Regions from separate parts of the Homo sapiens genome. Here all the other regions are linked to region 1. The links come from fine-mapping of genetic effects on gene expression. A gene starts in region 1. Each other region holds a variant in brackets. All regions are shown on one strand. Distances are from middle to middle.

What was found. PIP is the estimated chance that this variant, and not a neighbour inherited with it, causes the effect.
Region 2: its variant is the best candidate, but not a certain one, in a credible set for the expression of GALNT9 in lymphoblastoid cells (GENCORD, PIP 0.50).
Region 3: its variant is the best candidate, but not a certain one, in a credible set for the expression of GALNT9 in aorta (GTEx, PIP 0.60).

What each region holds. Positions count from the first base shown.
Region 1 is chr12:132,327,940-132,332,085 of GRCh38, reverse strand. GALNT9 (polypeptide N-acetylgalactosaminyltransferase 9) reads left to right here and starts at 2,497. Exons shown (of 11, transcript NM_001122636.2): 1 at 2,497-3,120. The coding sequence starts at 2,883. It overlaps LOC101928416 (a long non-coding RNA gene), which reads right to left and starts at 2,236. Exons shown (of 2, transcript NR_120467.1): 1 at 1,878-2,236; 2 at 511-627. RefSeq lists an enhancer at 3,859-4,146.
Region 2 is chr12:132,211,463-132,215,608 of GRCh38, reverse strand. All of the region lies in intron 6 of GALNT9 (polypeptide N-acetylgalactosaminyltransferase 9), which reads left to right. Among named protein-coding and RNA genes, the nearest start is that of LINC02361, 24 kb to the right of the region's middle. The variant T/A (reference allele first, on the strand shown) is at 2,076.
Region 3 is chr12:132,299,153-132,303,298 of GRCh38, reverse strand. All of the region lies in intron 1 of GALNT9 (polypeptide N-acetylgalactosaminyltransferase 9), which reads left to right. Among named protein-coding and RNA genes, the nearest start is that of GALNT9-AS1, 26 kb to the right of the region's middle. The variant A/G (reference allele first, on the strand shown) is at 1,810.

The DNA of each region.
Region 1 (4,146 bases):
GTTTTCTCCTACAAAACCACTTTAACATCATTTTCATTAAACATGTAATGAAAAGTGCTTGATGTTTTCTCTGGAGTGATCATGACTAATAAAGTCAATTCTGGAGCCCAATTGTCTGGGCTTGAATCCCAGATCCACGCTTTGCCATTCACGCGACCTTGAGCAAGCCAGTTGCCCTTTGTGTGCCTCAGTTTCCTCACATGGAACGTTAGATGACGCCAGTGTGTATTACACCTTAACGTGGCTGCTGCTCGTATTGACCAGGTGATAGGCATAGAAGACCATGTCTGGTGAAACCTTTGCACTGCGTGTGTGCCAGCTACCTGCATCATTATTCCAGCAGCTGTCCTCGTAACGTCGGGAAACATTTTACAACCTGCATTTTATAAGCAGAAGAATACGGCATTTTCAGGAGGGACACGGGAATGGCTATTGATCAAAAACAGACCAGGGTTTATCACACTGGCTGCATAGTAATCACCTCCCGGATGATTAAAAACAGCCTCCCAGGCTCTGTCTCAGAACAGGTGATACGTATCTACGGTAAACGCCCCGCAGACAGCTGCCTCCGTCCCAGTGCCGGGTCCTGCCTGGTTCTGATCCTCTGGATTTCCTGGGATAAACATCCTGAGGAAGAAAAGAATGGCTCAACAAAGAAAGGAGAAATGGGTGTTCGGCTCGCCCAGCCTCAGCCAAGGGGCAGAAAACCTCCAAGCTGGATAGGCTGTCATGCCCGATGCCAAGAAACGGATATTTGAAGAATAGAGTACTAAGCTCAGAGCCAGAACCCCCCAGATCCCCCTACACACATGTGCATACACAGACACACACACACAGGCACATGCACACACAGATATACATACAAACACACACATAGACACATGAACACATGAACAAATGCAGATATGAACACACAGACATGCACACATTTGAACATGCACAGACCACACACATGAACAGACATACATACACAGAAACATGCACACACAGAGACACATGGAGAGAAACATGCATACATGTGAACATGCACAGACATGAACACACATGAACACAGAGACATATATACATAGAAACATGCACATATGAACACACAAACACAGACATGCACACACAGACACACAGACACTCGTACACAGATACACAGACAAATGCACACATGGACACACAAACACAGACACATAGATGCACACAGATATAGAGACACATGCACACATGAACAAACAGAGATGAACACAGAGATATGCACACATGTGAACACACACACAGACATACATAGACACATACACAAATACACACAGGCACAGACAGACACATGCACACGCATGAACACACACAGAGACAATGCACACAGACACAGGCACATGCACACACAGATACATGCACACACGGGCACACAGACATGCACACAGAAACACGTGGACACATGCACATGCATGCGTGCTGACAACACAGACATGCACATATGCAGATACACAGGCACACAGAGGCAAATGCATGCACACTCATGCACACACACGGACACACACACAGCCAAGAGCTGTGAAGCCCCTTGCCTTACTCATCTCTGTATGGAGAGCCAAGCACAGCCATGCTCTTAATAAATGCTCCGTCATTTATTCACTCATCCCGCAAATGTTTACTGAACACCAGCTATGTGTCCAATCTCTGGGAACACAGGGGTGAACCCTGCCTTTGGGTGAAACTCCTGCCTCTTGGGTGCTTGCATTCTGCCAGTGGAAGTTGGGCCCCTGTGCTGCGCGGCTTGGCTGACATCTCCCCTGGCTTCCAGGGTCTCCTCCACAAAACGCCAGTGTGGGGCCAGATCAGAGCCTGGGCTGGGGGTGGGGGCAGCCGGGGTTTGCGGCCTCGGGTCTTACCTGCGAGCCTGGCTCAGGGACGGGGCCTTCTCCCTCCTGGTGGCTCCAGGGCCCCCTGCTGTTCCCGGAGGTCCGGCTGCATCCCAAGCCCCAACCCCCCCATACCCGTCCCGGGACTCAGCTTCCCCAGTCCTCAGCCCTGGACGGGGGAGAGGGAGGGAGGCCGGGAGCTCGGCTTGGGGAGGGGTGGGCAGGAGACTACCAGAGTGGCCCTGACCCGGGTCCTGCCCCGGCCGCCCCCTCCCCCATTCACTCCCGGCGACACCGCCCTGGCCAGGCATTCCCGGAGGCCCCGCTGCCCTCGGGTCAAGCTTGGGGTCGATTCGGACCGTGCTGGCCGTTGGGGGCCCCGGGCGTCTGGCGGGTCCTGGGGAGGGAGGGTCCGCGCCTGCCCCGCCCCCGCTCCCCGCGCCCGCGCGCCCTTGGCCCAGGCTACCCCGCGCGCCCCGCCCCCCGTCCCCCGCCCCCCGGACCTGCTGTCCTGGGGTCCCCGGGGGGGCGCGGTGGGGGGGGCGGGGCAGGCGCGCGGGGCGGTCCCGGGGGGCGGCCTTGAGGGGTGGGGGAGGCGGGGCGGGGCGGTCCTGGGGCCGCGGTTGCAGATGAGGTGAGGTGAGGCCGCGTCACTCTGCACCGGCGCGGTGGCTGCGGGGCGGGCAGGACAGGAGCCGGCACAGACACCGAGCGCCGCCCGCCCGCGCCTTCCCCGCCGCCCCCCGGCGCCCCCGGCCCCCCTCACCGCTCCCCGGGGCGGGGCCGCGCCCTCTGAGCGGGGGATGCCGGCCGCGCCCCGCGACCCCAGCCCCGGGCAGCCCTCTGCGCTCTGGGGGACCCCCGGCGGCCGTGGCCCGGCGCGCTGAGCTGGTGCTGAAGGGACAGCTCCGGCCGAGCCCCGCAGCCCCCGCAGCCCCGGGCGGCTCATGGTCCCCGAAGCCGAAGCTGAAGCCCAGGCCCGGGCGGGGATGCTGGGGATGCCCCGCGGGTGAGGCCCCCGCTGCAGCCGTGTTCATGGCGGTGGCCAGGAAGATCCGAACTTTGCTGACGGTGAACATCCTGGTGTTCGTGGGCATCGTCCTGTTCTCCGTGTACTGCCGCCTGCAGGGCCGCTCCCAGGAGCTCGTGCGCATCGTGAGCGGCGACCGCCGGGTGCGCAGCCGACACGCCAAGGTGGGCACGCTGGGGGACCGTGAGGCCATCCTGCAGCGCCTGGACCACCTGGAGGAGGTGGTCTACAACCAGCTCAACGGTGAGCGGGGGCGCCGGGGCGGAGTGGGGGCAGCCCTGCCCGGGACAGTGGCCACCCCGGGCGCGATGGGTCAGGCCGGCCTCGGGTGCGCGCCCCTCTGCGCCCCTGTGGGAGGGAATATACAGGAGAGAGGAGAGGGAAGGGCCGCGGAAGCCCCTTCAGCAGCGGGCAGCAACCTGGGTTCCCCCCGCACCGGGCACCCACCCCTCCAGTGGAGACTTGAGGAATCCCCCTGCCCCCACAATGACGCAAACTTGCTCTCCGAGGGAACTTCTGCAGAGGATCTTTGGAGCTGCTCTAGAAGCAGGCAGTGCCTAGGTCCAGGAGTGTGGGGTGGGGGGCTGGCTTGGCGCTCCAGGAGTGGGGGCCGTCAGGTTTAGGCTGCGCCGACCCCTCCACTCTTGAAGGTGGGGAAAGAGGAGGGTGGGGACGCCACACTTGGGAGGCTGCTGGTGCAGTGTCCTTTGCCCCTGAGGTTCGAAGGCACCCCAAATGCTTCGACCACTGGGCTAGGCGGCCCCCTGTCCTGGGGGTGCCCGAGGCCGCGTTAGAAAGTTGTTATGGGAGAAGCTTGAAGCTGAGACCTGAGACTCCTGGGAGGATGGAGTTGAGGATCATGCAGGGCTTGGCAGGACTCATTACCCAGGGGGGCCCAAGTTGTGGCACCTGGGAGCCCCAGAATCCATGAAAGCCTCCAGCTCCCGGTGGGTCTGTTTCATCACGAGCGGACGTAGGTCAGCCCGAGGAGCAGCACCGGCATCACCACAGGTCAGGGCCAGCGGCCACAGCTGCTGAGAGCAAGCACTTTTCCAGCTGCTCCACCTTCCCGGAGGAGCAGCCGCCCCCAAGGCCACTCTGCACCGGGGCGCCAGGAAGGAGAAAGTTTGCATGTGCCTACATCACTAGCTGGTGTGGCTTTCCGTTCCGTGCCGATGATTCAGGCTTCTGCCTTGGCAGCCCCAGCAAACCTCCTCCAGAAAGCATCCGTAACAGGCTCGAGTGGGAGGTGACGGGAGCTGGGGTTAC
Region 2 (4,146 bases), 120 kb after region 1:
GCCAACAAGCAGGATCAAGTGGACCCTGGGCCACGCTAGCCTTGCCTGGCCCTCGGAGTGGTCCCCGCACTCGCCAAGCCCTGGCATGGCAGCGCTCTTGGGAAAGGGAGGAAGCACGCCCTCCCTGGAGGAGCTGCTTGTGCTCTCCGTCGAGGCCAGCACACAAACAGCCTCACCAAGAGCGAGGGCCACACCCAGCAATCCTCCCCGGGCTGCAGTGGCATCCAGGCGGTGCCGGGCGCCGCGTCCTGGCCTCCATTTAGAAACTGACTGTGTCTCGTGTGTGGGGCCTACAGCCCGACAGGAGGGCTGGTAAATTGCAGCTCGGTGTGCGAGGAAGTACTTTTGTCCCTGAGAGCCTGGGCTGTGTCACCTGCAAACCACGAGAAAGAGCTGGGGCTCCAGGCAGGGCCCCGATGAAACCTGTGTCTGTTCTGCCGAAGCGGCCACAAAGCCACCCAGAGCTGCGGAGACCCGGCGTCTGGAAACCAACAGCGATTGTGTCGCGTTTCCTCCCAAACGCCCTTAAACGGGCAGGACAGCGTGGCAGGTGAGGACGCTGACAGGCCAGTCAGCACCAGCGGAGGGTGCTACAGAGGCCGGCAGGTTTCTCCACTCTCACAGCCTCACGCTGGCTTTGCCTGTCAGCCAGAATCTTCCAGATCCGCGTAGAACAGTGAGATGGGCCTCTGTGACGGGTGTGCATCCCCTGCTCTGCAAGATCAGGAGCTGAGCAGGAATGGCGTGCCACAGAACTGAGCAGGAACAGGGTGCCACCGCCTGCCCTGGTCTCCAAGTGGCTTTATCGTTATTCAGGACAGCGCAGCCAGCAGGCCAGGAGACAATGGCCATTGGTGAGATGGTTTGTTACGCACGGATCCCAGAGAAGGGGGTACCACCAGGCAGGGCCACCCAGGAGGCACCAGGCTGGACAGGAGGCAGAGGGTATGAGGGGGATGTGGCCAGGAATGGGCAAGGCCGGGTGAGCAGGCCTGGGGGGCCTGGCTTCCATCGTCTCAGCAGCTCTGGGGCATGGGCCATCCTCCTGAGTGGTTGGGTGGGAGGATGGTAGCCCAGAGTGAAGGACAGAGGCAGTGGGCTGTGGATTCGCGTTGGCTGGTGGGGCGTGGACTCTCGTTGCCTGGTTTGCATTTGGAAAGACGCTGGGGGGGTGCTCACTAGCTCTAGGAAATCACTCACCCGGGAGGGGCAGGCCTCTCGGGCTAGTGAGGTTCCAGATGTCAAAGCATCAGATACAGAAAATATGAAAGCATGATTAATACACGGGCTCCGCTCCTGCTCGCCCCCTTCATCCCTGGGCTCCTGCTGACGGTGGAGTCGCCGGTGTGGTGAGGGAGGGCGGAGTCGCTGGCCTGGTTAGGGACAGTGGAATCACAGGCGTGGTTCTCCAGCCATCTCCAAAGGAGCCACCATCAGGGACCTCACACACGGCACCCCGGAATCGGCTCTCTCTTCTCCAGGTGCCCTTGGGGTCAGTGCCCCTCCTGGTAATCCTTGTGAGGGTGGTGTCCCGGCTTTCACCTGGGAGGACTGAGGGGCCCAGACCCCCATCCCCACGCCTGACCTGGCAGGGAGCGGGGGTGGTTGAGGACTCGGAGTCGCGGGTGTCCCTGGACTCATGCTGCAGGGAGGGTGTGCGGACATAGGGGGTGGGGTTGGGCCTGCATCTCCAGGGCTGCTCCGTGACCGGGCTGTTCTGGACTGTCAGCGCCCACGCGCACCAACTGATGCAGTCGAGGCTCTTTCTTTCAGCTTCTGGGACGTGTCTGCATTCTGCTCGAGAGAGCTGGCAGCAAGCTGGGGCCTCCTCAGGTCCCCGGTGCCACCTGGAGAATGCAGAGGCCACAGTGGGCCTCATGTCCCCTGAACACCCCTCCTCGGACATGAGGGCTGACCCCAGAACCCCTAGGTGCTCACAGAATGAGCTGTCCCTGCAGGTACATCAGAGGCTGACAGGAATGACAGCTGAGTGCACATGTGTGTGAGTGTGTGTGTGTGACTGTGTGTAGGTGGGAGTGCCTGTGTGTGACTGTGTGAGTGCGCCTGTATGTGGG[T/A]GGGAGTGCGTGTGTGTGAGTGCGCCTGTGTGTGAGTGGAGTGCGTGTGTGTGGGTGTGAGTGTGCCTGTGTGTGGGGGTAACAGTGCATGTGTATGCTTGACTGAGTGATTATGTTGCACACGTGTGCATCTGCGGTGCATTTTCATGTGTGTGTGTGAAGAAATTGATTGATTCTAAGAATTGGCTCACACAATTGTGGGGTTGCCAAGTCTGAGATCCTTAAGGTGGGCAGTGGGTGGGTTTTCTGTGTCATGGTCTGAAGGCTGCAGACCCGGGTGGGGTTTCCGTGTCGAGGTCTGAGGGCTGCAGAACCGGGTGGGGTTTCCGTGTCGAGGTCTGAAGGCTGCAGACCCGGGTGGGGTTTCCGTGTCGAGGTCTGAGGGCTGCAGACCCGGGTGGGGTTTCCGTGTCGAGGTCTGAAGGCTGCAGACCCGGGTGGGGTTTCCGTGTCGAGGTCTGAGGGCTGCAGACCCGGGTGGGGTTTCCGTGTCGAGGTCTCAAGGCTGTAGACTCGGGTGGGGTTTCCGTGTCACGGTCTCAAGGCTGTAGACCCGGGTGGGGTTTCCATGTCACGGTCTGAGGGCTGCAGACCCGGGTGGGGTTTCCATGTCACGGTCTGAGAGCTGCAGACCCGGGTGGGGTTTCCGTGTCGAGGTCTGAGGGCTGCAGACCCGGGTGGGGTTTCCGTGTCACGGTCTGAGGGCTGCAGACCCGGGTGGGGTTTCCGTGTCACGGTCTGAGGGCTGCAGACCCGGGTGGGGTTTCCATGTCACGGTCTGAGGGCTGCAGACCCGGGTGGGGTTTCCGTGTCGAGGTCTGAGGGCTGCAGACCCGGGTGGGGTTTCCGTGTCGAGGTCTGAGGGCTGCAGACCCGGGTGGGGTTTCTGTGTCGAGGTCTGAGGGCTGCTAGACCCGGGTGGGGTTTCCGTGTCGAGGTCTGAGGGCTGCAGACCCGGGTGGGGTTTCCGTGTCGAGGTCTGAGGGCTGCAGACCCGGGTGGGGTTTCCGTGTCGAGGTCTGAGGGCTGCAGACCCGGGTGGGGTTTCCGTGTCGAGGTCTGAGGGCTGCAGACCCGGGTGGGGTTTCCGTGTCGAGGTCTGAGGGCTGCAGACCCGGGTGGGGTTTCCGTGTCGAGGTCTGAGGGCTGCAGACCCGGGTGGGGTTTCCGTGTCGAGGTCTGAGGGCTGCAGACCCGGGTGGGGTTTCCGTGTCGAGGTCTGAGGGCTGCAGACCCGGGTGGGGTTTCCGTGTCGAGGTCTGAGGGCTGCAGACCCGGGTGGGGTTTCCGTGTCGAGGTCTGAGGGCTGCAGACCCGGGTGGGGTTTCCGTGTCGAGGTCTGAAGGCTGCAGACCCGGGTGGGGTTTCCGTGTCGTGGTGTGAAGGCTGTAGACCCGGGTGGGGTTTCCGTGTCACGGTCTGAAGGCTGGCATCCTTCTCTGGGAACTCCCCACCCGTCTTTTCTCTCAATGCCTGGCTGGGTGGGGCCTGCCTGCGTGCACGTCCGCTGCCATGCGGAGTGTCCACTGACGCAAGCATCACTCACAGCTGCAGACATGGTCCCAGCAGCACCTCACATCCACTGAATAATGGGACCTTCACCTCCTGAGCAGATGTAAAACCGTCACATGGGCCACAGCCCACAGGCGTGGATTGCAGGGCAGGGGTGCAGTGTGTGAGCACGTGGCCTGCTGTTGGGGACCAAGTTTGGAGTCTGGCTGCCTCAGGTGCTGGCTGGGTGACTTGGACATACTCCTCAGCCTTCCGTGCCCATCTCCTAATTCCCACAAATGCTCTTGAAGGACCTGCCCCAGGGTCCCCTCGACGGAGAGGGGGAAATGCTCTGGGAAGCTCTGGGCCTGCTGCCTTTCACAGAGAGAATATTCGGGAAAACCACGGTGGAGACAGAGGATGAGGGACACAGAATGGCCAGGTGGACGAGAGAGGGTGGACGGAGTGAGCGGATCACAGTAAGACTGCGGATACACGGCTGTTTCTGGCCAGCGCGAAAGGCAGCTGCATGTGGTTTGACCGAATAGACACGAGGTTGCCTCCTCACTGCTGTGGTGAC
Region 3 (4,146 bases), 29 kb after region 1:
ATGCCCTGGTGGCCCTGTGCTGCTCAAGGTGCCCGGGGTGGGGGCCTCTCTCCTGGTGACGAATCCACTCAGGGCGCCTGCCCAGCCTTGGGCAGTCACTGCATCCCGGCGGTGGAGGGTCTGACGGGGACTACCGGGTGAAGGCCACAGGGGTGACAGCCACAGTGTGCATGGGGACGGCTAGTCCTGAAATACACAGGGAGGCTTTCCCGAGAGAGAGACAGACAGAGGGTGGGAAACCGCGTCTTCCATGTCCACACACCGTCTCACCCCAGGGCTGATCGGAGCATCAGACTCTGCACAGGCCCCTGGGTTCCACCCTCGCCCCCCTTAGACGGTCACCGGAGTGGTCCCTCTGCATAGAAAACCTGACCACTGTGCCCACCCTCCTCTCTCCCTCTCAGCTCAAAGCTCCTCTGCGCTCCCACTTCCTACAAGGCTCAAAGCAAGATCCCAGCGGCACAGAAAGCTCCCACCCCGTCCCGTCCCCTTTCTGCTGCCACAGCCCTGACCTGCATGCGCAGCCACTCACAGGACACCTTCCTGCCCTCCTGGCCTTTCTCTTCCCTCCGACTCCTCTTCCTGGGGATCCTGCCCCTGCCTCTGACCCACACCTGCGTGGAAGCGGCTGCCCTGGGCTGGCACCTGTTCACCTGTGGGCATGATGGGGCATGAGCTCTGGGGGGCAGGCAGGTGTGTGCTGCGTTCACCAGGGCCACCTGGACCTGCCCCACCCAGGCAGCTCTTGGAATTTAGCAGACGCTCCGTGAGTTTTGATAATGGATGGGTGAATAAATGGCACGGCTACAAATTGACATTTTATGTTTGCAGCCATCAAAGTTATGTTTATGAAGAATTTTTAGTGACGTGGGGAAATACTCAAGACGTAGTGATAAAAACAGAATGCAGGCGGCAGACACCAGATACATGGATCGAACTGCGCTGAGGCATTACGTGATCTTACAGAATAATATGGAGTGTGAAAATACTGATACTAGTTTTCCCTGCAGCAAGAGACCCCAGGTGATCCTGTGTGTGTGTGTGTGTGTGTGTGTGTGTGTGTGTGTGTAGAATTTTCTACCAAAAGCATTTATGACTTTTCCAATCAGAAGTGATGCACTTTCTAATTAAAGTAGTGGAAGCATATATTGCTGGCAGTGAAACAAAACTAATCTAAACCTTCTGGAAAATGACTTGGCACCAAGATTCATGAAATTTCTCTATCTTTGACACAGTGGTTCAATTTCTGAAATAAGCAATCCTAAATATGTAATTAATAAATAAGTGATAAACACGTGAGCCCCTCGGGGTTGTCAGGCAGGTGTTTCTGTGGACAAGCGTCTGATGGATGTTACCTAGTGGTTGGAAGGTCATTGCTACGACTGCAATTGAATTCTACCTCTGACGGCACAGAAGGCATCTGTGGCCATAACTTTATGTGGAGGCAAAAAGCAAAATGCAGACCCCTCCATCTTGAAGGTGGCACACAAATGTTCCGTGCCCCCCTGGAGCCGCATCCAAATCACCTGCCCTGTCCAGGGTCATGAAGGTTGTGCAGGGCATGGGGGAGGCTGCATTTGCCAGGGAGGGCTTGGCCTCCCTCTCTGGCCAGCGAGTGGGGCCCCAGGTCCCTCCTCCAAGGGCTGGTTCAACCTGAATGTGTCCACATGGCATGTTCCTTTTCCGCGGCCACCAGGCAGTCCTCCTGCTGTGCCGGCGGTGAATGTTCGCACAGCCATCCCTACCTCCGGGTGGAATTGGGAGGGGCAGGGGCCGACGATGGGGCAGCCCCATGGACAGGGACCCTTT[A/G]TGTGCCCCGGAGGGGAAGTGTCCAGCTGGCACCTTGGTCTGGCTCAGAAACCCCTGTGTGGTTCTCGTATGGACCATTCCCACGTGCCCACCACAGCAGCACTTCTGTCTGTGAAACAGGGCGCGGAGTGGAAGCACAGCCGTGGTCCCCAAGGCCAGGCAGGCACTGTCACCTGCTTCTTTGGGAGAGGATGCCCTTCCTCTCCTGAAAGTGGAGCGACCATGGTTTAGTGGCTATTTAACGCCTTTGCCTGCCACCATACAGGGGTGGTGCCTTTCTTGGTCCCTTTGGACACCCTCTTTGAGAGCTTTGCAGTTCGGAGCACTGTGACGGAGTGTGGCTGGGGCTCACTGCCTCCTGGCCATGGGCCCAAACTTCAGCCTCAGGAGTCTCATCAGTTACATGGGGGTGACAAAAGCAGCTGGCTCGGAGGGAACCCTGGGGATTAAAGGAAGCAAAGCTTGTGCAACGCCTGCACGAGGAACGGTCAGTGCTGTGCTGTGAATGCGTCGCCCGCTGCCCCCACATGGGAAGCTTCACCCCCACCATGGCATTGAGAGAGGTCTGCAGGGGCTCTGCCCTCTCCAAGGGGTTAATGCCCTTAATGTGGGAGTGGGTTAGTTATGGGAGTGAGTTATCTCAGGAGTGGGTTGGTTATCTCAGGGGTGGGTTAGGTGTGGTGGGGGTGGGTTAGGTGTGGTGGGAGTGGGTTAGTTATCATGGGAGTGAGTTATCTCAGGAGTGGCTTGGTTATCTCAGGGATGGGTTAGGTGTGGTGGCAGTGGGTTAGTTATGGGAGTGAGTTATCTCAGGAGTGGCTTGGTCATCTCAGGGGTGGGTTAGGTGTGGTGGGAGTGGGTTAGTTATCATGGGAGTGGGTTATCTCAGCAGTGGCTTGGTTATCTCAGGGGTGCGTTAGGTGTGGTGGGAGTGGGTGAGTTATGGGAGTGAGTTATCTCAGGAGTGGCTTGGTCATCTCAGGGATGGGTTAGATGTGGTGGGAGTGGGTTAGTTATGGGAGTGGGTTATCTCAGCAGTGGCTTGGTTATCTCAGGGGTGCGTTAGGTGTGGTGGGAGTGGGTGAGTTATGGGAGTGAGTTATCTCAGGAGTGGCTTGGTCATCTCAGGGATGGGTTAGATGTGGTGGGAGTGGGTTAGTTATGGGAGTGAGTTATCTCAGGAGTGGCTTGGTCATCTCAGGGGTGGGTTAGGTGTGGTGGGAGTGGGTTAGTTATCATGGGAGTGGGTTATCTCAGCAGTGGCTTGGTTATCTCAGGGATGAGTTAGGTGTGGTGGGAGCAGGTTAGTTATGGGAGTGAGTTATCTCAGGAGTGGCTTGGTTATCTCAGGGATGGGTTAGGTGTGGTGGGAGTGGGTTAGTTATCATGGGAGTGAGTTATCTCAGGAGTGGGCTGGTCATCTCAGGGATGGGTTAGGTGTGGTGGGAGTGGGTTAGTTATCATGGGAGTGAGTTATCTCAGGAGTGGGTTGGTCATCTGAGGGGTGGGTTAGGTGTGGTGGGAGTGGGTTAGTTATCATGGGAGTGGGTTATCTCAGCAGTGGCTTGGTTATCTCAGGGATGGGTTAGGTGTGGTGGGAGTGGGTTAGTTATGGGAGTGAGTTATCTCAGGAGTGGGTTGGTCATCTCAGGGGTGGGTTAGGTGTGGTGGGAGTGGGTTAGTTATGGGAGTGAGTTATCTCAGGAGTGGGTTGGTCATCTCAGGGATGGGTTAGGTGTGGTGGGAGTGGGTTAGTTATCATGGGAGTGGGTTATCTCAGCAGTGGCTTGGTCATCTCAGGGATGGGTTAGGTGTGGTGGGAGTGTGTTAGTTATGGGAGTGAGTTATCTCAGGAATGGGTTGGTCATCTCAGGGATGGGTTAGGTGTGGTGGGAGTGGGTTAGTTATCATGGGAGTGGGTTATCTCAGCAGTGGCTTAGTTATCTCAGGGATGGGTTAGATGTGGTGGGAGTGGGTGAGTTATGGGAGTGAGTTATCTCAGGAGTGGCTTGGTCATCTCAGGGGTGGGTTAGGTGTGGTGGGAGTGGGTTAGTTATGGGAGTGAGTTATCTCAGGAATGGGTTGGTCATCTCAGGGATGGGTTAGGTGTGGTGGGAGTGGGTTAGTTATCATGGGAGTGGGTTATCTCAGCAGTGGCTTGGTTATCTCAGGGATGGGTTAGATGTGGTGGGAGTGGGTGAGTTATGGGAGTGAGTTATCTCAGGAGTGGCTTGGTCATCTCAGGTATGGTTAGGTGTGGTGGGAGTGGGTTAGTTATGGGAGTGAGTCATCTCAGGAGTGGGTTGGTTATCTCAGGGGTGGGTTAGGTGTGTTGGG